2 separate regions of the Homo sapiens genome follow, and region 2 is linked to region 1. Evidence: fine-mapped expression QTL. A gene starts in region 1. The other region holds a variant in brackets. All regions are shown on one strand. Distances are between the middles of the regions. Region 1 holds the start of RNF114 (ring finger protein 114). Region 2 overlaps SLC9A8 (solute carrier family 9 member A8).

Region 1 (9,727 bases):
TAGATTAAGACAGTATAACCAAATCTGCCAGAAAGAACTAAAGATATATAATGAAAGGCCATCTTCTGAACACTTGACCATTTTCTACTGCCTCTAAGAATCTCCTTCCTCCTTGTCATTAAGTTAGATGTTAATGCTGTTAGGCAAAATTCCAGACCAGGTACAGAGAAGGTGAGGGAGTCTATTCATTCACCACTGAGGGCAATGGAAACTTGACAAAGCCCTGTTCTCATGATGCTTACATTCTAGAGTGAAGGGAAACACAAATGTTAATTTCAGATAGTGATTAAAAATATGAAGGAAATATGGCAAACAGACCAGCTGGGGTGATCATAGAAAGCTGCTTCTGAGGAGTTGGCATTTGAGCTGGGTGGGACCTGATTACGAGGACAGCCACACAGATCTGGGTGCAGAGCTCCACACCAAGATCACGCCACACACAAATGAGGACTGGAAAGGAAGGCAGGCAGACCTTGGGGGCCATGATGCGGTAGACCATGGTGAGAAGGGCAAGTGATGAGGCAGTAGAGACAGGCAGGGCCTGTGGCCATCACTTGTGTTGCCTGTTCACAAAGGCAGATGACAAGAGGAACCCAAGAGAGCACAGAGGGTCCAGTGAGTATAATGGAACCAAACCCAGCATGCAGATAAAAGCAGCTCGAAGTCTCTTCTCAAGCACACACACAGGTACAGCTCATCTATCAAATGTTCACGAGTCACTTTGTGCCTGAGACATGCCCAAACTACCAGCCTGCTTTTGAACAACTCAAATATCCTGGGATGGCTTTTCAGTTTCTATTTCCTACTTATGCGCCCTTTTCTAGTTCAGCCTTCCGATGCTCCACTCCGTCACAGTGCTAGGAAGAAATTCCCTTCTCTTGGGCACCCAGCCAGCTGCCTTTCTCCAGCTGTATTCTACCAGATTGGAGAACACAGTCATTCAGGGCTTGAAATAAAGTTTTATAAAAATCCAATGCCCCAGCCAGAGTTGCAGTGATGCTCAACTTTCCAAGCACAAAAGGTAAAAATCAACTAGGCACAGGAGAAAGCAGTCGGTTGGAGCTAGCGGGGATTTGGGCTGCCCTCACAGAGGTGCTTCCATCTGTCTTCAATTTGCACTGAACTGCTGATCACGTGGGGCTAGGACAGCGAGGATAGAGAAGAGCCAAGGTTTGAAAACCAGTACTGTTCCTTGCCCTCTGACCTAGGAAAGGTTCACCAAGCTCAAGAAAATCTCAAATTTTGCTGCTCTTCATTTAGCAAACTGTGCTGGGTCTAGCCTTTTTACAAATGTTAATAGTAAATGAAATCCACTGAATTAATCCAAAATCAGGTAAATCTGATCCAAGGATAAGTGGATTCAATGAAAAAGCTAAAGACCACTTCAACTCTCGTGAAGCTTGCTTACACGACTTATTAGTTCATTCAACCATTACCTGATCACTCACCCCACGCACAGAGGTGTGATCCCTGAAATACCCTCCCACTTGCAGAATGAATTTTTACAATAGTTTGACCAGTCATTGGTACTTATTTATAATCAATTCACTGGACTGTAAACTCTGAAGGCAGAGTCTACCCCAAAATCTGGCACACAGAGGCCATTCCAGTCAGTTCAGGGGCAATAAAGATATGGCCACTCCGTCATGAGCTGTTAAGTTTTGCTCTGTGCAAGCAAGGAGAAGGAAGTTAAGTCCCAGAAAGGAAGTGGGGGAAGTAATTTAGATGGGGATGGTATTTGGTGAGGTAACTTAACCTGGGACTTGAAGCCTGAAAAGGGAGGGGTGGGGGGAAGAGTTCCAGGCTAACCGAATTGCAAAGATGAATAGCCTAAAGCAACATGATGAAGCAAAAAGCAGCCAGCTAGGTGCCAAGCACTGTTCTCTGGACTACTGAAATGGTCACCTGCAGTACATCTGGGAAGAGCTAGGCCACGGTGACCCTTCCCTAAGAGAGCCTCGGACCCTCAGTGTATTCACCTGTAAAATGGCTGCCAACCCTCCCCCGCTGCAGGGTGGCTATAGAATAATGCCCATGGAGTGCAATGGCTACTGTGCCCGCTGCCAAGACCAATGCCAAGGTGATCCCACGATAAGCACTGAGAGGGGCCAGAGGAAAAGCCAATTCTGAGGCAAGAAGCAGGTGGCCACGTTGTCTACAATTCTTTCAACTCAGATGTGTTTGTGCGTCTGATGGAACAAGGCTTAGATTCAAATCGACCAACCTGACCAACCTCGAAAGCCCCGGCCACAGCCCAGGACCTGGACTGGACATTTATACACATATCTGCTTTAATCATTATAACCACTCTATTCACAATATTCAGGTCATGAAGGCTTAATTGAAAACTGAAAGAAACAAACCTCCTACACAGGAAGTAGAATGCTAACAATCCCATCTGCCAACTCCCACCCCCCTTTCACAGCTAAGGGCAAACTGGCCAGATCCCCATAAAGACTTCCCTTTTGTTGTTTTAGTCTAGTTCAGCGTTTCTCCCGACTTTAGTGCACAGTAGAATAACTCGCCACAGCTAGACACGACGCCAAATGTCCTATGCTTTAAGAGCGACGTGGACTAGAAAGGAAACGTCGGCTCTCCAAGGGCGGACTTCGGAGCCTAAAGTCCCCGCAGGGCACGAGTCCACTATCACGTGTGGGAAGGAGACTGACAGGCCGCCTGGAACATCGCAGGCGCTCAACAGACAGCAGCTGCCCCGCTAAGACGGGCGGAGGAACGGGATACTTAGGAGTGAGCGGGGCGGGACAGAAGAGCGCCCCGGCAGCTTTCACGGCCCTTAGGAGCCCCGGGGGACACCCCCGGGAGGCCCCTCTGGGTGGGTCCTCTGGCTCCCGCCCTGAGACCCATCTCGCTCCTCGGCTCCATTCCCTTCCCAGTTAAGCGCCCCCCGACCAGGCCCGGGCTCGCCGCTTACACGTGTCCGCAGGGCACCTGTACCGGCTTCTCGTACACCTCTAAGCACACGGGACACGTGAAGCGTCCTAGGGGGTCAGCCTCCGCCGCCGGCCCCGCCAGCTGCGCAGCACCCCCGCAGTCCCGCTGTTGCGCCGCCATCTTGCTGCCGCTCTGCGCCGCGCAACGGCGGCCGATGAGGAGGAGGCCGAGGGGGCGGGGCTCGCGGGGCGGTGAGCGGTTGGGGGCGGGGCTAGCGGGTGGGCCGCCCCTCGGGGCCCCTCTGACGCAAGCGAGCTAGAGGCCGAGGGAAATCTGGAAAACGTGGAAGCCAAATCCAAAGGCTGCCAGAATTGGGACGGGCTCTGCGCGTGGGCCGCTGTTTTCCAAATTTATCGTTAGTTCGGCACCACTTGCACTATCACTATTTATCTTCGAATCAAGTTGCTTTTTCCTTAAATTTATTTATTTATTTATTTAATCTATTTTGGGACAAGGTCTTGCTTTGTCGCCCAGGCTGGTGTTCAGTGGCGCGCGCGATCATGGCTCCCTGCAGCCTCGACCACCGGGGTTCAAGCGATCCTCCCACCTCAGCCTCCTGCGTAGCTGGACCACAGGCAGTCACCACCATGCCGGACTAATTTATTTATTTTTGTATTTTTTGTAGAGACGGGGAAAGGAGGGGGGGAAGGAGTGGTGCAGAGAGCGGGCGGGTCTCACTGTGTTGCCGAGGCTGGCCTCGAACTCTTGGACGCAAGCAATCCGCCTGCCTCGGCAACCCGAAGTGCTGGGATTACAGCGGTGAGCCACAGTACCCAGCCATTTCTTAAATTTAAGCAAATTCTAATAACAGATCTAATTCCTGAGCTGCAAGAAGAAAATCAATATCATTTATTTATACAAAGGAGCTGGGCAAGGTGGCTTACTTCTGTAATCTCAGCACTTTGGGAGGCCGAGGTGGGCGGATCGCTTGAGCCTAGGAGTACTAGAGCAGCCTGGCCAACATGGTGAAACCCCGTCTCTACTAACAATACTAAAATTAGCCAGGCGTGGTTGCCCATGCCTGTAGCCTCAGCTACTCAGGACGCTGAGGCAGGAAAAGCCTTTGACCTGGGAGGCGAAGGTTGCCGTGGGCCAAGATGGCTCACTCACTCCAACAGTCACTAAACTCCAGCCTGGGCAACAAGAACGAAACTCCGTCTGAAAAAAAAAAAAAAAAACAAAAACACAACCTGGCTAACACGGTGAAACCCTGTCTCTACTAAAAATACAAAAAATTAGCCGGGCGTGGTGGCGGGCGCCTGTAGTCCCAGCTACTCGGGAGGCTGAGGCAGGAGAATGGCTTGAACCTGGGAGGCGGAGCTTGCAGTGAGCCAAGATCTTGCCACTGCACTCCAGTCTGGGCGACAGCGCGAGACTCCCTCTCAAAAAACAACAACAACAACAACAAAACAAAACAAAAAAACCCCAACAACAAAGTACATTCATTTCATATTGTGCAATCATCACCATCAGCTATCTCTAAAATTCTGGTCTTCTTGCTAAACTGAAACTGAAATTCTGTCCCCATTAAACAATAACTTCCTCTTCCCTCCTCCCATCCCCATACCCCCAGGCCCTGGCAATTTTCTGTCTATGATTTTGAAGCACTTATAGCTATAAAATTTCCCCTGAGCACTGCTTTCACTGTGTCCAGTAAATTTTGGCATGCTGTGTTTTTGTTTTCATTTGTTTCTCAATATTTTCTCTATTTATTTAATTAATTTATTTATTTTGAGATGGAGTCTCACTCTGTCGCCCAGGCTGGAGTGCATTGGTGCAATCTCTGCTCGCTGCAGCCTCCCTCTCCTGGATTCAAGCAATTCCCTTGCCTCAGCCTCCCAAGTAGCTGGGATTACAGGTGCCTGCCACCACGCCTGGCTAATTTTTGTATTTTTAGTAGAGACAGGGTTTCACAATGTTGGCCAGGCTGGTCTCAAACGCCTGACCTCAAGTGATCCGCCAACCTCGGCCTCCCAAAATGCTGGGATTACAGGTGTGAGCCACCCAGCCTGGCCTGTTTCTGAGTATTTTCTAATTTCCCTTGTGATTTCTTCTTTGATCCATTGGTTCTTTTAAGAGTGTGTAAATTTCCACAAATTTGTGAATTTTCCAGTTTTCCTTTGATATTGATTTCTTTTTTTTTTTAACCCCCCCATATTGATTTCTAGCCTTATCCAATTGTGCTTGGAGAAGATATTTGGTATGATCTCTTTTATTTCTTCTTTCTTTCCTTCTTATCTTTCTCTCTTTCTCCTTTTCTTCTGTCTCTTTTTGTAGAGATGAAGTCTGGCTGTGTTGCCCAGGCTGGTTGCAAACTCCTGGGCACGAGCAATCCTCCTGCCTCAGCCTCCCAAAGTGCTGGGATTACAGGCCTAAGCCACCACAGCTGGCTGATGTCTACCTTTTAAAATCTCTTGAGGCTTAATCTGTGGCCTAACATATGGTCCATCCTGGAGGATATCCCATGTGTGCCTGAGAAGAATGTGGATGCTGTTGTTGCTGGGGAGTGTCTGTACATGTGTTAGACCTGGTTGTCTTACTGTGTCGCTCAAGTCCTTTATTTCCTTACTTGTCTCCTGTTTGTTCTATTTATTCTTGGGAGTGGGGCATTGAAGTCTCTAACTATTATTGTGGAATTGTCTATTTCTTCCTTCAATTCTACCAATTTTTGCTTCATATGTTCTGATGGTCTGTTATTAGGTATATAAATGTTTATAATTGTTATATCTTCTTGCTGTATTGAACTTTTTATTAACATACAATGCCTTCTTTATCTCTTGTAACCTTTTGGACAAGTAATTTTTCTTTTTTCTTTTTTTGAGACAGGGTCTTGCTCTGTCGTCCAGGCTGGAGTGCAGTGGTGTGATCTCAGCTCACGGCAACCTCTGTCTCCTGGGTTCAGGTGATTCTCCTGTTTCAGCCTCCTGAGTAGCTGAGACTACAGGCATGCACGACCACGCCTGGCTAATTTTTGTATTTTTAGTAGAGACAGGATTTCACCATATTTTTTAGGCTGGTCTCAAACTCCTGACCTCAGGTGATGCACCCGCCTCGGCCTCCCAAAGTGCTAGGATTACAGGTGTGAGCTACCGTGCCCGGCCTGGACAAGTAATTTTTCTGATATTAGTATTGCCAGCCCTCCTCTTCTTTGGTCACGCAAAAAGATATTTGCATGAAATATCTTTTTCCATCCTTTCAGAACCAGTCTATAAAGTGAGTTTCTTATAGAGAGCAATACAGTTGAATCATGTTCTTTAAAAAAAAAAAAAAAAAAAGCTGGGTATGGCGGCTCATGCCTGTAATCTCAGCAGGAGGAGGCTGAGGCGGGTGGATCACCTGAGGTTAGGAGTTCAAGACCAGCCTGACCAACATGGTGAAACCCTGTTTCTACTAAAAATACAAAAATTAACCGGGCCTGGTGGTGCATGCCTGTAGTCCCAGCTACTTGGGAGGCTGAGGCAGGAGAATCGCTTGAACCTAGGAGGCAGAGGTTGCAGTGAGTGGAGAACGAGCCACTGGACTCCAGCCTGGGCAACAAGAGTGAAACTCAGTCTCAAAAAAAATTTCTTTTAAATTAATTTTTTTTTTTTTTGAGACAGAGTCTCGCTCTGTTGCCCAGGCTGGAGTGCAGTAGCACAATCTCGGCTCACTGCAAGCTCCGCCTCCTGGGTTCACGCCATTCTCCTGCCTCAACCTCCTGAGTAGCTGGGACTACAGGCGCCCACCACCACGCCCGGCTAATTTTTTTTGTATTTTTAGTAGAGACGGGGTTTCACCATGTTAGCCAGGATGGTCTCGATCTCCTGACCTCACGATCGGCCCACCTCGGCCTCCAAAGTGCTAGGGATTACAGGCGTGAGCCATTGTGCCCAGCCTAAATTTTTCCTTCCTTTTTTCCTTCCTTCCTTCCTTCCTCCCTCCTTCCCTTCCTTCCTTCCTTCGTTCCTTCCTTTGTTCCTTCCCTCCTTCCCTCCCTTTCTTTCTTTCCTTTTTTTTTTTTTTTTTTTTTTTGAGACAGAGTCTCACTCTGTCACCCAGGATGGAGTGCAGTGATGTGATCACAGCTCACTGCAGCCTTGACTTCCCAGGCTCAAGTGATCCTCCTGCCTCAGCCTCCTGAGTAGGTGAGACTACAGGCATGTGCCATCACACCTAGCTATTTTTTCTATTTTTTGTAGTGATGGGGTCTCACTATGTTGCCTAGGCTTTTTTTTTTCTTTTTTGAGACAGGGTCTGGCTCTGTTGCCCAAGCTGGAGGACAATGGCAAAATCTTGGCTCACTGCAACCTCCACCTCATGGGCAAAAGCCGTCCTCCCACCCCAGCCTCCCAAGTAGCTGGGACTATAGGCGTGCACACCACACCCAGCTAATTTTTAAATTTTTTGTAGAGACAGGGTTTCACCATGTTGCCAAGGCTGGTCTCGAACTCTTGAGCTCAAATGGTCCTCCTGTCTTGGTCTCCCAAAGTGCTGGGATTACAGGAGTCAGCCATCATTATTAAAATTTGTTTGCTTAAATTTAAGAAAGGGCTGGGCATGGTGGCTCACGCCTGTAATCCCAGCACTTTGGGTTGCTGAGGGGGGTGGATCACTTTTGTCCAGGGGTTTAAGACCATCCTGGGTAACACAGTGAGACACCCCACCACCCCCAACTCCCTCCCCCATCTCTACAAAAAATACAAAAATAAGTGGGAGGATCACTTGAGGCCAGGAGTTCAAGATCAACCTGGGCAACGTACCAAGACCCTGCTGTCTACAAACAAACAAACATAAAATTAGCTGAGTGCAGTGGCATGTGCCTGTAGTCTTAGCTACTCAGAGGAGGGTTGCTTGAGCCCAGGAGTTCAAAGCATCATTGAGCTGTAATCTTGCCACTGCACTCCAGTCTGGGCAAGAGCAAGACCCTGTCTCAAAAAAAAAAAAAAAAACAAAATTAATGCCAGGTGCAGTGGCTCACACCTGTAATCCCAGCACTTTGGGAGGTCAACATGGGAGGATCGCTTGAGGCCAGGAGTTTGAAACCAGCTTAATCAACATAGCAAGACCCCGCCATCTCTACATAAAAAAAACTAGCTACGTGTGGTGGTGCACACTTGTGGTCCCAGCTACTCAGGAGGCTGAAGTGGGAGGATTGCTTAAGCTCTAGAGATCGAGGCTGCAGTGAAACATGATTGTGCCACTGCATTCCAGCCTGACTGACAGAGACCCTTTCTCAAAAAAAAAAAAAAAAAAAAAAAAGGCCAGGCGCAGTGGCTCACACCTGTAACCCCAGCACTTTGGAAGGCCGAGGTGGATGGATCATGAGGGCAGGAGATCGAGACTATCCTGGCTAACACAGTGAAACCCTGTCTCTACTAAAAAATACAAAAAAATTAGCCGGGCCTGGTGGCGGGTGCCTGTAGACCCAGCTACTCGGGAGGCTGAGGCAGGAGAATGGCGTGAAGCCAGGAGGCGGAGCTTGCAGTGAGCTGAGACTGCACCACTGCACTCCAGCCTGCGCGACAGAGCAAGACTTTGTCTCAAAACAAAACAAAACAACTAAATAAAATATAAAATTCTATTCCCCAGTCTTACTAGCCATATGTCTAGTGCTCAATAGCCACAAGTGACTCGTGGCTACATATTGAAAAGATCAGACACAGAACATTTCCATCGTTGCAGGAAGATCTATTGGACAGCGCTGCTATAGATACCCTCATGCATGTGAGACAGCTACATGCACACGGATATCCAGGACAGCGTTGTCACACTAGGAAGATACTGGAAGCAACCAAAATGATGATTGGGGGTGATTAAACAAATGCAATAGATATAATTACTAGTATATCAATTCCATGAGGTCAGGAGGTTTTGTCAATTTTGTTTACTGCTGTTATCTTCAGCTTCCAAAATAATGCCTGGTGCATGCTAGGTAATTACATAAATATTTGTTAAATAAATATGAAGCTGATATTGAATCATCTCATATATATATATATATATAAAACTTTTTTTTAAAATGGAGTCTCGCTCTGTCACCCAGACTGGAGTGCAGTGGCACGATCTCAGCTCGCTGCAACCTCTGCCTCCTGGGTTCAAGAGATTCTCCTACCTCAGCCTCTCGAGTAGCTGGAATTACAGGCATGCGCCACTGCACCTGGCTAACTTTTGTATTTTTAGTAGAGACGGGGTTTCACCATGTTGGCCAGGCTGGTCTTGAACTCCTGACCTCAAGTGAGCTGCCCACCTTGGCCTCCCAAAGTGCTGGGATTACAGGTGTGAGCCACTGCACCTGGCCCAAAAAATATTTTTAATTAAAACAACATCAAGATGCCAAGTAATGCAACTAATATATGTATATGTTTGTATATGATAAATAGATGCCTTTGGAAAGTAGGGTGACCAAGTGTCCAGGTTTGCCTGGGAGTGAGGGGTTTCCCAGGATGTGAGACTTTCAGTGCCAAAACTGGGAAAGTCCCGGGCAAAACAGGATGAGTCAATTGCCCTACTGGAAAGATTTTTTTTTTTTTTTTTCTGAGACGGAGTCTCACTCTCACCCAGGCTGGAGTGCAGTGGGACCATGTTGGCTCACTGCAACCTCCATCTCCTGGGTTCAAGCAATTCTCCTGCCTCAGCTTCCTGAGTAGCTGGGATTACAGGTGTCCACTACCACGCCCGGCTAATTTTTTTATATTTTTAGTAGAGACGGGATTTCGCCATGTTGGCCAGGCTGGTCTCGAACTCCTGACCTCAGGTGATCCACCCGCCTCGGCCTCCCAAAGTTCTGGGATTACAG
Region 2 (9,727 bases), 52 kb after region 1:
GCAACTTCAGTTTCAGTTGAACAAACTGAGCTGGGATTGTTCTTTGTGGGGGTGGAGGTCACGGGAGGTGTCATTCAGAAAGGAGGAGGGAGCATGGCTTGAGGCTGAACATGTGGTCTCTGGAGTCAGACACAGTTAGCTCTGCTCCCAGTTATGCCCATATTGGCTGTGACCTTGCGGGGTTACTGCACCCCCTTAGGCCTCCATCTCCTCAGCTGTCAGGGACACAGCTGCATCCACTGCACAGGATGCTGGAGAAGGAAGCGGTCGTGGTCACAGTCACTGGAGCTGCCTGGCTCCTGGAAGAGCGCACACACCGGCAGCTCTCAGGCCTGCCGGAGAGTGGAAAATGGGCCTGCTCGGAAACAAAGCGGGCAGCAGCAGGAAGAGCCCCACCCCTACCCAAGGCCTCCAACTAAAGAGAGGCCAGCAGTGCCCCGAGGGACAGAACCAGAGCCCTGAGCTGGGGGCAGACTTGGGCCACAGCTTGAGGCCCTGGTATGTCTGAAATTCCTCAGCTCCGATTCAGTAGCTGATCAATACCCCGAGTCTATCATCCAGGAAAACCAAACTGTGTTAACAAATCTATTATTAACCTCGCACTAAATGTGGCAGCGAAGGAAAAACAGCAGATGCCGAGTTCCACAAGCACGTCCAGCCTCCAGATCGGGAGGCGGCGGCCTGGCGGGCCCACGTGAGCTTTCCTGCCTCCCCACTCTTCCTCCACCCCACCCTGGGCCACCGCAGGTCCTGAAGGAGGCAGGCAAGGGACCCCCAGAAAGTGTGGCCTGGCCGGTATCCCACCTCCTGCGTCAGCCTCCGAGTGAAGAAGGGGTTCAGGTACTTGGCGTCCAGCCACACGAAGCCCTTAAGGTCCTGCCGCCTGATGTAGTGGGCCTCGTACTCCTCCTCCGTGAGCTCCGACAGGTGCTCCGACTCCACAGTGTTGCCCTGAGCAGGGAGGAAAGGCGGCCCGACGGCCACCAGCTGGCACCATCGGGGGGCACCTCCTGGAAGCCCCCACACCACCCAGGCCGCCAGTGTCCCCAACCCTAACTCCACTTGACCATCAATGCAGGGTGACGGGCAGCAGACGGCCTCCTGGGAGCCTGCAGGGAGGCAGGAACGTCCATCAGGGCACAATGGATGCCCAGGACCCCACCTAGGACAGCTAAAACAGAAGGACTGGGCCAGGCTGGGGCTTGGTCTTTAAGCTTTTCAAGCTTTTGGGTGATTCTATCATGCAACCAGGACCAGAACTGCTGTTCTGGGCTTTTCATTAGCAGCAAATCGCACAGGGAGGCTTTTTGTCTCTTTGCCTGTGGCTCTATTAGCTAGGACTCCACCGTGGACAGGCTTTTGCCAATCAAGTCAAGAGAGGAGAGGGGAGAGGAACACATCCTGTAGGAATTGGGGAGGGACGAAGAAAAGGACCCCATGTGGAGGGGAGAGACGGAGGTAAAGAGGCGGGACTCGGGTCATAGGTAGGAGCAAAGCAGACAGGCTCTGAGTGCAGCGCCTGCTCTGCTGGAGGAGTCTCAGTGGGGCCACAGTGAAGTGTGCTCTGCAGCTTCACTGCAGGTGGTGGGGAGGGGGACGGGGCAGGTGCAGGGAGGGCAGAGGATGGCCGGGGAGGGGAGGGCATTTAGATGCTGTGAAGCAGTGGTTGTCAAACACTGGTCTGTATTAGAATCTACCTGGGGGGCCTGTGAAACCACAAAATACTGAGCCCACCGCAGCCACCTGCAGAGGTGCTAATTCAGTAGGTCTGAATGGGCTTGGGAATCTGCAGATCTAACAGGTTTCCAGTGATGCTGCTAGTCTGGGGAGCCCATTTTGAGGACTGCTGATCAGCGTGGTAGTAAAGAGGACAGGCTCGGGAGTCTGTGCCCACAGCTGTCTGATTCTCTTGGTGCCTCGGCATTCTCATCTGCAAAGTGGGTATAATGAAAGCGCCAGTTTCTGGCAGGCTATGGGGACAATCTGAGATCATCCAAGGAAAACGCAAGCACACTGACTGCCACAGAAAACATTCCAGAAACTCAGCGGTTCATCCTCAGAGGAGCTGTCCTGTTTCTGCTAGTGCTGTGCTTCGCCAAGCGTGTTCACAGGATCAGCTGCAGCAGCACCACCTGGCAACTTGTTAGAAACGCAAATTCTTAGCCTGGACCACATGGTGAGACCCCATCTCTACTAAAAATAAGAAAAAATTAACTGGGTGGGGTCACGCCTGTCTGGAGTCCCAACTACTCCAGAGGCTGAGGTGGGAGGATCGCTTGAGCCCAAGAGGTCTGGGCTGCAGTGGGCCACGATCACGCCACTGCACTTCAGCCTGTGCAATAGAGTGAGACCCTGTCTCAAAAATAAATAAGAAGAAACACAAATTCTTTCGGACCCCATACCATACCTATGAGATGCTGGTGTGAGACCCAGCAGCCTGTGTGTAGCAAGCCCCCCACCGATTCTGATACCCAGAAAGGCCTAAGCTAGAGCTTTTGTGAAAAACAAAAAAGTTGGTAGATAGGGGGTGGGGGCAAAGGGCCTCTTAGTGTGGTGGAAGTTCTGCAGAGCCAGGCCTCACAGCCATCTGGAAGTTTCCTCCCAGCAGCACTGCACTGGGTGAGGGGCCCAGCTGAGCATGGAGATTGGAGGCCATGGTCTTGCCAGCCCTGACTCCAGTGTTAGCCGTGGATGGCCACGTGAGGACTCCTGGGCCTCTGATGACTGATTAAAGTTACTGAGGCCTAGAATACGGGAACTAGAAAGAGATGCATGTCCAGAAATGCATGGTGATCAGCAGGGGATGCTCTGGGCTGGAGCCTACAGCAGCCTCTGCTTCGGTCAGAGGGCCTAGCTTTGCACAGGGGTCCTGAGGGTGAAGACAGGGCGGGAAGGCAGCCTGGTGGCAGGGGCGGTGGCTTGTAGGAAGAAGAGGTGGGCAGGCTGCAGAACCTCAGCTCTCCCTACAGCTGGGGCCTGGGTACCTCCAGCCCCACACCATGTCTGTCCTTGGGGGAGTACCCCTCTCACGGCCCTCACAGCCACCGCAAGACATCCTCCCCTCCTCAGGCCCCCAACAGGTGGTTTTTAGTAAAACCATACTGGGGAATGACAGGATTTTGAAACCCTCAAACCTGGGCCCTGACAGGTGTCTCAGCTGCTGGCAGGGCAGAGGCACTGCTGTGGTTGTGGCACAGGTCCAGACTCCTGTGGTGCCCCATGGAGCTTCAGAGAGGGAGCAGATGGGGTCGTCCACAGCCCCCATGGCTGCGGCAGGTCACAAGGCCACCAGACACCCCCACCCCAAGAGCCATGCTTCAGAACTCAAGTTCCGTCACCTCCTTCTCAGGGGGGATGACCGGGGGGTGTGTGTGTGTGTGTGTGTGTGTGTGTGTGTGTGTGTGTGTGTGTGTCGTGTGTGTGTGTGTCGTGTGTGTGTGTGTCGTGTGTGTGTGTGTGTCGTGTGTGTGTGTGTGTGTGTGTGTGTGTGTGTGTGTGTGTGTCGTGTGTGTGGAGGTGCTGGGCATCCTCAAAGCAAGAAAGCAAGGCTCATCTCCCCATTTCCTGACAGTGGGGACCACCAGCTGCGTAGCAGGCCAGCCCCCTGCCCCACCCCCACAGGCGCATGGTACTAACCATCTTCTCAGTCTTGCTGAGGTTGACGTCCTTCTTGTTCCTGCGGTGTGCCTTGGCGTCCTCGATGTCCATGAGGCGAATGAGGGGCATGGTGCTGCCGCCCAGCAGCAGGATGGTGAAGAGCACGATGACGATGGTGGTGGTGCCGATGAGCTGCCGCTTCTCCATGGGCTCCAGGTCCAGGTGTAGGCTCAGGGCATAGGGGATGGCTCCCCGCAGGCCTGGGTGACAGCAAACAGTGTGAGAGGACACAGTGAAGAGGCAGCAGCTTCATGGGCTGGCTTCCCTGGAAATCCAGCCGGCCCAGCACCACGACCAGCTGACTATTCTAATGGCCCTGCTGAAGAGTGTGTGCTCACCCTGTGAGGCTTTGGGGTGTAAAGAGCAGGTGGCAGAGATGGGACCACAGACTCACCTCCATTCCAACATTGGCAGATCAAATGAGATGGCCTGCCCCAGCTACAGAGCCCCAGATGCGGGTGCGGGAGGACTTAGCAAGCCTGATGCTCGTGTCTTGGAAACTGCAGGACAGCTGCTGTGGGCTGAGCCCTCCCTGTGTGTGCGCCAGGCCTGGGCAGGTGCTCAGTGTGCAGAGCATCACTGGATCTTCACAGGAATCCTCACCGAGCAGCGCTACTCTTGTCCACAACACACAGATGAGGGATGGAGGCCAAGAGCAGCATGGCCCGCCCAGGGCCACTCAACTAATACCCACAACAGCACAAGATGCAATGTGTCCAGTACCCCTCCTATCTCGAGATGCTGTCCCTGTGGAGGCCCCTGGTGGCACTGATGGGGCTGTGGGCTGCTTAGGTGGTAATGACAGGCTGGCTGGTCCTCTGTGACGCTACTAGGGCACAACTGAGGGGCATGGACTGAGCTGGAAAACAGCACATTCCTCTGTTAGAAGTTTCCTGGCTTCCTTGGTGCCATACGGAGGGGACAGGCAGTCCTAGCCCCACCCTTGGGGAGCTCCTAGAGCAGCTGGGAGGAGGCACAGCAAATAAGGGGTGTGAAATGCTACCTGGAAGAGATGGTGGGGGGAGGGGGGTGGGGGGTGGGGGGGGGCATGGTGCAGACAGCACCAGGACCTTCCCCAGACAGGAAAGCGGGGAGGCTCACATCACCATGGGGTAGGGCAGCCAGGCTGCTGCAGGCCAGACCCAGATGGGGAGACGGCAGGGCAAGAGCAAAGGGCACATAATACAGAGACATGGTGAGGACAAGGGACTCTCAGCCTCTCTAAACCTGTCACGGGCCAGAGGATTCAGTGACACGGGACATGTAATGTGCTTTAACAGGGTGTGTACCCAGCAAGTGCTTAGTACCGGCTAGCCAGGCCACCGGGCAATTCAAAGTAGGATTTCTTGGGCAAGGGGGATGCAAAGGCATAGGGATGACAGCATCCCCACGGCATCCAAACAGGCAGCTGGAAACAGGAGTACGGATCCCAGAGGGAGGTCTGGGTTCGCGGGAACAGCTTTGGGACTAGGTGGAAGTGAAGGCCAGTGGACGGGTGAGCGCACTCAGTGAAGTGCAGAACACGTGAACAGAAGTGGGGCTGGGGCCAAGTCCTGAAGAAGCCACTATTTGAGGGGTCAGCGAAGGGGGACGAGCCCAAGGAGACGTCAAAGGAGAGAAAGGAGGAGCATGGCCCAGAGGCCGGGGAAGAGAGTGAAGTGGTCCTCGCCAGAAGGTAGGGGCAGTGGGAAGGAGGTAGGCTAGGACGGGGGCGGACGCCTCCCCTCCAGGTCTGGCTGCGGGAGGTCACTGGTGACCTGCCAAGGCCAATTCCAGCCCCGTGGACAGGCGGTGAAGAAGTGGAGAAAATGAGCGAGCACGGCTCACTCGCAAGGGTCTGGCCATGGCAAAAGAGGTGCGGACACAGCTGCGGGGGAC[A/G]TGAGGAGGAACTCTGGCTGAAGTTGCTGGTGTTTTGTGGGAAGGAGGAGAAGCTCTGATTGCTTAAATGATGATGGGAGGGGCCGGTAGCAGAGGCTTGTTCAGTGCCCCTCGTTGAGGATCCAGGAAAGCCTGGATGGAAACCCACAGAGCAAGAGCCCGGGGAGCCTGGGAGAGAACAGGAGCCGACAGCCCCCGCCATTTCAAATACACTCCAACCTTCCCCATAACGCTCTCTTATCCTCATGCCCCCCTTCCCAAATAGCCCACATCACTTCAAAAACCTCTGACACACTTCTGCAACCATTTACAAAGTAGTTTGCCTCACTGGCAAAAGAGATTAGGAAAAAAATGAGTTTTTCTCACCACATATAAATGTATATGTATATATACACATACGTACATATATATGAAACATATACATTTTTAAACATGGCCTTTTGAAAGAAGAGAAATCTGAGACAAACTTGCAGATATGCCTTTGGATAGAGAACATTATAGTGTGTTGCTATAACCCAACCCACACGGAAAATACTTTGATTATAATATTTAAGCAAGAAAGCATAAAGAACAGTATGTATTGCTCAAAAATAAATTTAAGGATGCCTATGGATCCAGTTCTTTAGAAGCAAAGATGTATGAAATCATTTCCGTCCTTTAAAAAGTGATTAAATAGCAACTGAAACATTCAAATTAAACTACTAGAACTTTGTGACTAAAAGGAAAAATATCCAAAACTAACATAAGGTATGAAACAGTTTCAACTTTCACCTTTTCTACCTTGAGACCATTATTACTTCAGCCTAGAAGACCCCCAGGGAGGCGCTGAAGCACGCCCAGCTGCATCCCGGACTGCACTATGGTGTTCAGAAGAGAGTGGCAGAAATCCCGGCTCTGCCTCCAGTGGTCACGTGACCCTGGGCATGTTGTTTGCCCTCTTCCAACCAAGCCTCACCCACTTCATAGCACCATGGTGAGGGGCACCATCTTGATTGCAGTGGGTGCCATTAAACGGGAGTATTGATTACTTGTGGTTTTGCCAAGGGCGCTAGCAGAGAACCACAGCTCTCCCTGTATGGGGCGTGCTTTTAACAGGTACTTCCCCACCCCATTTATCCAAGATTTGACTTACCACTAAACCACATGATGAACATCATCTTCGGTGTGATTTTATGATCCCGGAAGAAATTCAGGAGGTAGGAAAGAGGGAAAATGTTTACCGCTCTGCCAAATAGTACAAGCACCTGTTGATAGCAACAAACTAAGTCTTAGGTGAAAACATCTGGCTCTTCAAGCTGAAGCTTCTTGGATGAAGCTAATGCAGACTGTGTAACACATCCAGTACAAATGCAGTATTCCCCTCAGCCACAAAAGACACGAGCAACACCATGCTCGTCAGAGACCCAGCATGGGCGTGCTGCCACAGCTGCGGGATTCTATGCATCTAGGAAAGGATAAAGCTTTGTACGTTACCTTTCTTAGTAGCCAGAAAAGAGAGGACGGACGAGGTATCAGGAAGGGCTTTAGTAATGACAGCAGAACAAAACTGAATGCCAAGAGGCTGTACAGAAGTATTCACAGATTAGTTTAAGGGCAACCTGACTCCCAAGGTGCCCCTCCTTGGGACAGGGCTGCATTGATCATACCAGGACTAGGGGGACAGACAAGGTGTTTCTGCCTCTCCCTCAGGGAAAGGAGGGCAGCTATGAAGGACCTCCCATGCATGGAAACACTGCTCTCTGAGCAAGAGGAACGCAGAGGTAGGGACTATCAGGAGGCCACATGCCCCGGCTTAGCCTGCCAGCTGCTTGCTGTGGCTTTTGGTTCCTCTCCATCTCCAAAGGCATGTTAGTCTTGGCAAAGTACAGCTTTATGTAAAGTTTACATCTTTTTTTTTTTTTTTTGAGACAAAGTCTCACTCTGTCTCGCATGCTGGAGTGCAGTGGTGTGATTGTGGCTCAATGCAACCTCAACCTCCTGGGCTCCAGTGATCCTCCCACCTTAACCTCCCAAGTAGCTAGAACTACAGGTATGCACCACCATGCCTGGCTACTTTTTAAAATTTTTTAGTTAAAGATGAGGTCTTGCTATGTTGCCCAGGCTGGTCTCAAACTCCTGGTCTCAAGCAATCCTCCTGCCTTTGCCTCCCAAAGTGCTAGGATTACAGGTGTGAGCCACTGCACCCAGCCTAAAGTTTAAATCTTATCTAAGTGGATTCTTAGGACATTTATTACTTTACTTTCATTTTCTTCATCTTGGTTCTCACCATAACTACTTGAAAAGGATGATATAGACATGTACAGTACATTCTTTAGGCTTTAAGTTTATTCCTTTAACAAGCATGAATTTGAGAGTTTTTTTTTTTTTTGAGATGGAGTGCTGTGGCGTGATCTTGGCTCACTGCAACCTCTGCCTCCCGGGTTCAAGCAATTGTCCTGCCTCAGCCTCCCTAGTAGCTGGGATTACAGGCGTGTGCTACCATGCCCGGCTAATTTTTGTATTTTTAGTAGAGACGGGGTTTCGCCAAGTTGGCCAGGCTGGTCTCAAACTGCTGACCTCAAGTGATCCACCCGCCTCAGCCTCCCAAAGTGCTGGGATTATAGGCGTGAGCCACCATGCCTGGCCAAGAGTAAATGTTTCCAATCATCAAACATTTCTATGCCAGACAACATGCTAATCATTTTACATGCATTATCCTGCTAAATTTAAATCCTTGCAAAGGTCTTACAAAGTAGGTATTGTTGTCTCCAGTTTATAGACAAGGAAACTGAGGTATAGAGAGATGAAGTAATTGGTCCAAGTTGACAAGGCAGGAAGTAATGGATCCAAGTCTCAAATCTGGTTCAGACCCCAAAGCCCATGCTCTTGACCACTAAATTGAGTTTACAGGGCAGGAACTGTAACCCACCTGAATAGGCCATCTCCACTAGCTGCAGGGCCAGCCTGGGCCTAACTGCTTAGAGAAAACTGAGTTGTCACCCCAGGGCATCCTTTCATTTTCCTCCCAACCTGTGGCTGAAATAGTCACCTCCCTGTTTCACCCACTGAAATCCAATCTTCCATGCCTACACTTGTTTCAGGTTTGATCAAATGTGTCCCTTTTCCCCAGTGGCCACACTAAAGGCTATTATACTTTTTTTTTTTGAGATGGACTTTCGCTCTTTTTGCCCAGGCTGGGGTGCAAATGGCATGATCTCAGCTCACTGCACTGCAACCTCCGCCTCCCGGGTTCAAGCGATTCTCCTGCCTCAGCCTCCTGAGTAGCTGGAATTACAGGCGCATATCACCACGCCCGGCTAATTTTGTATTTTTAGTAGAGATGGGGTTTCACCATGTTTGCCAGGCTGGTCTCAAACTCCTGACCTCATGATCCGCCAGCCTCGGCCTCCCAAAGTGCTGAGATTACAGGTGTGAGCCACCGCGCCCAGCCTAGGCTATTATACTTTCTGTAAAGGACTTTTGCTGCTTCTCTCTTGCCCTGAAACCTGAGTTTGGAGGACAAATAACAGTGACCAAGAGCAATGAGCTCTTGCTGACTGAGAGATGGAAGTACCCAGGTTGCAGGAACAATATCTTATAAACAGACAAATAGACAAATATAAATAGACAAATTTGAAGAAAACTGCAGTAAGAAGTACATAATAAATTATCCAGAAAAAGCAGAAAAGAGAAAGAAATCCCAACTCTATGACCACTGTGAACATGTGGCTATATTTTCTTTACATATTTTCTTTTTTCTGTGCATAATATTTTTACATGGTTATGATCAATTACATATTCAATTTTGAAATCTGCTTTTACCTCCTCACACAAAAACTTACAAACCTGTACTTTTATTTAAAGACCATAATATTCAAGGCCATTAAAAATCTTAAAAAACAAGCAAAAGTCCTTTCTGGGGATATTTATTCACTTAATTCTACCCCTGCCCCCTTACTGTATGTTTGTGATTTTTTTTTTTTAACAAAAGAAACTTTAAACAAAAGAGTGTCTATGTAGCTGTTGACTTTGAACAGTTAACAGTTACATAAATGAATCCGGAACATGTGTTTATTGATCTACAAATAAGTAATTAAATTTAAAAAAAAAAAGGAAAATACTTACTATGCACCAGATGACAAAGGAAATTTCAAACTTGTGAGGAAAACTAAAAATGGACAGGCCAAGAAATGCAAACACACATGTTTCTGAA

The links.
Region 2: its variant is fine-mapped to the expression of RNF114 in whole blood (INTERVAL, PIP above 0.99). The same link has a PIP of 0.9 or more in lung.

What each region holds. Positions count from the first base shown.
Region 1 is chr20:49,929,758-49,939,484 of GRCh38, reverse strand. It overlaps RNF114 (ring finger protein 114), which reads right to left and starts at 3,088. Exons shown (of 6, transcript NM_018683.4): 1 at 2,933-3,088. The coding sequence starts at 3,072. RefSeq lists silencers at 1-93, 1,719-2,013, 2,299-2,593, 3,052-3,241, 3,808-3,887 and 1 more and an enhancer at 2,834-3,439.
Region 2 is chr20:49,877,976-49,887,702 of GRCh38, reverse strand. It overlaps SLC9A8 (solute carrier family 9 member A8), which reads right to left. Exons shown (of 16, transcript NM_015266.3): 12 at 9,640-9,722; 13 at 6,668-6,779; 14 at 3,637-3,857; 15 at 805-951. Among named protein-coding and RNA genes, the nearest start is that of MIR12122, 19 kb to the right of the region's middle. The variant A/G (reference allele first, on the strand shown) is at 5,536.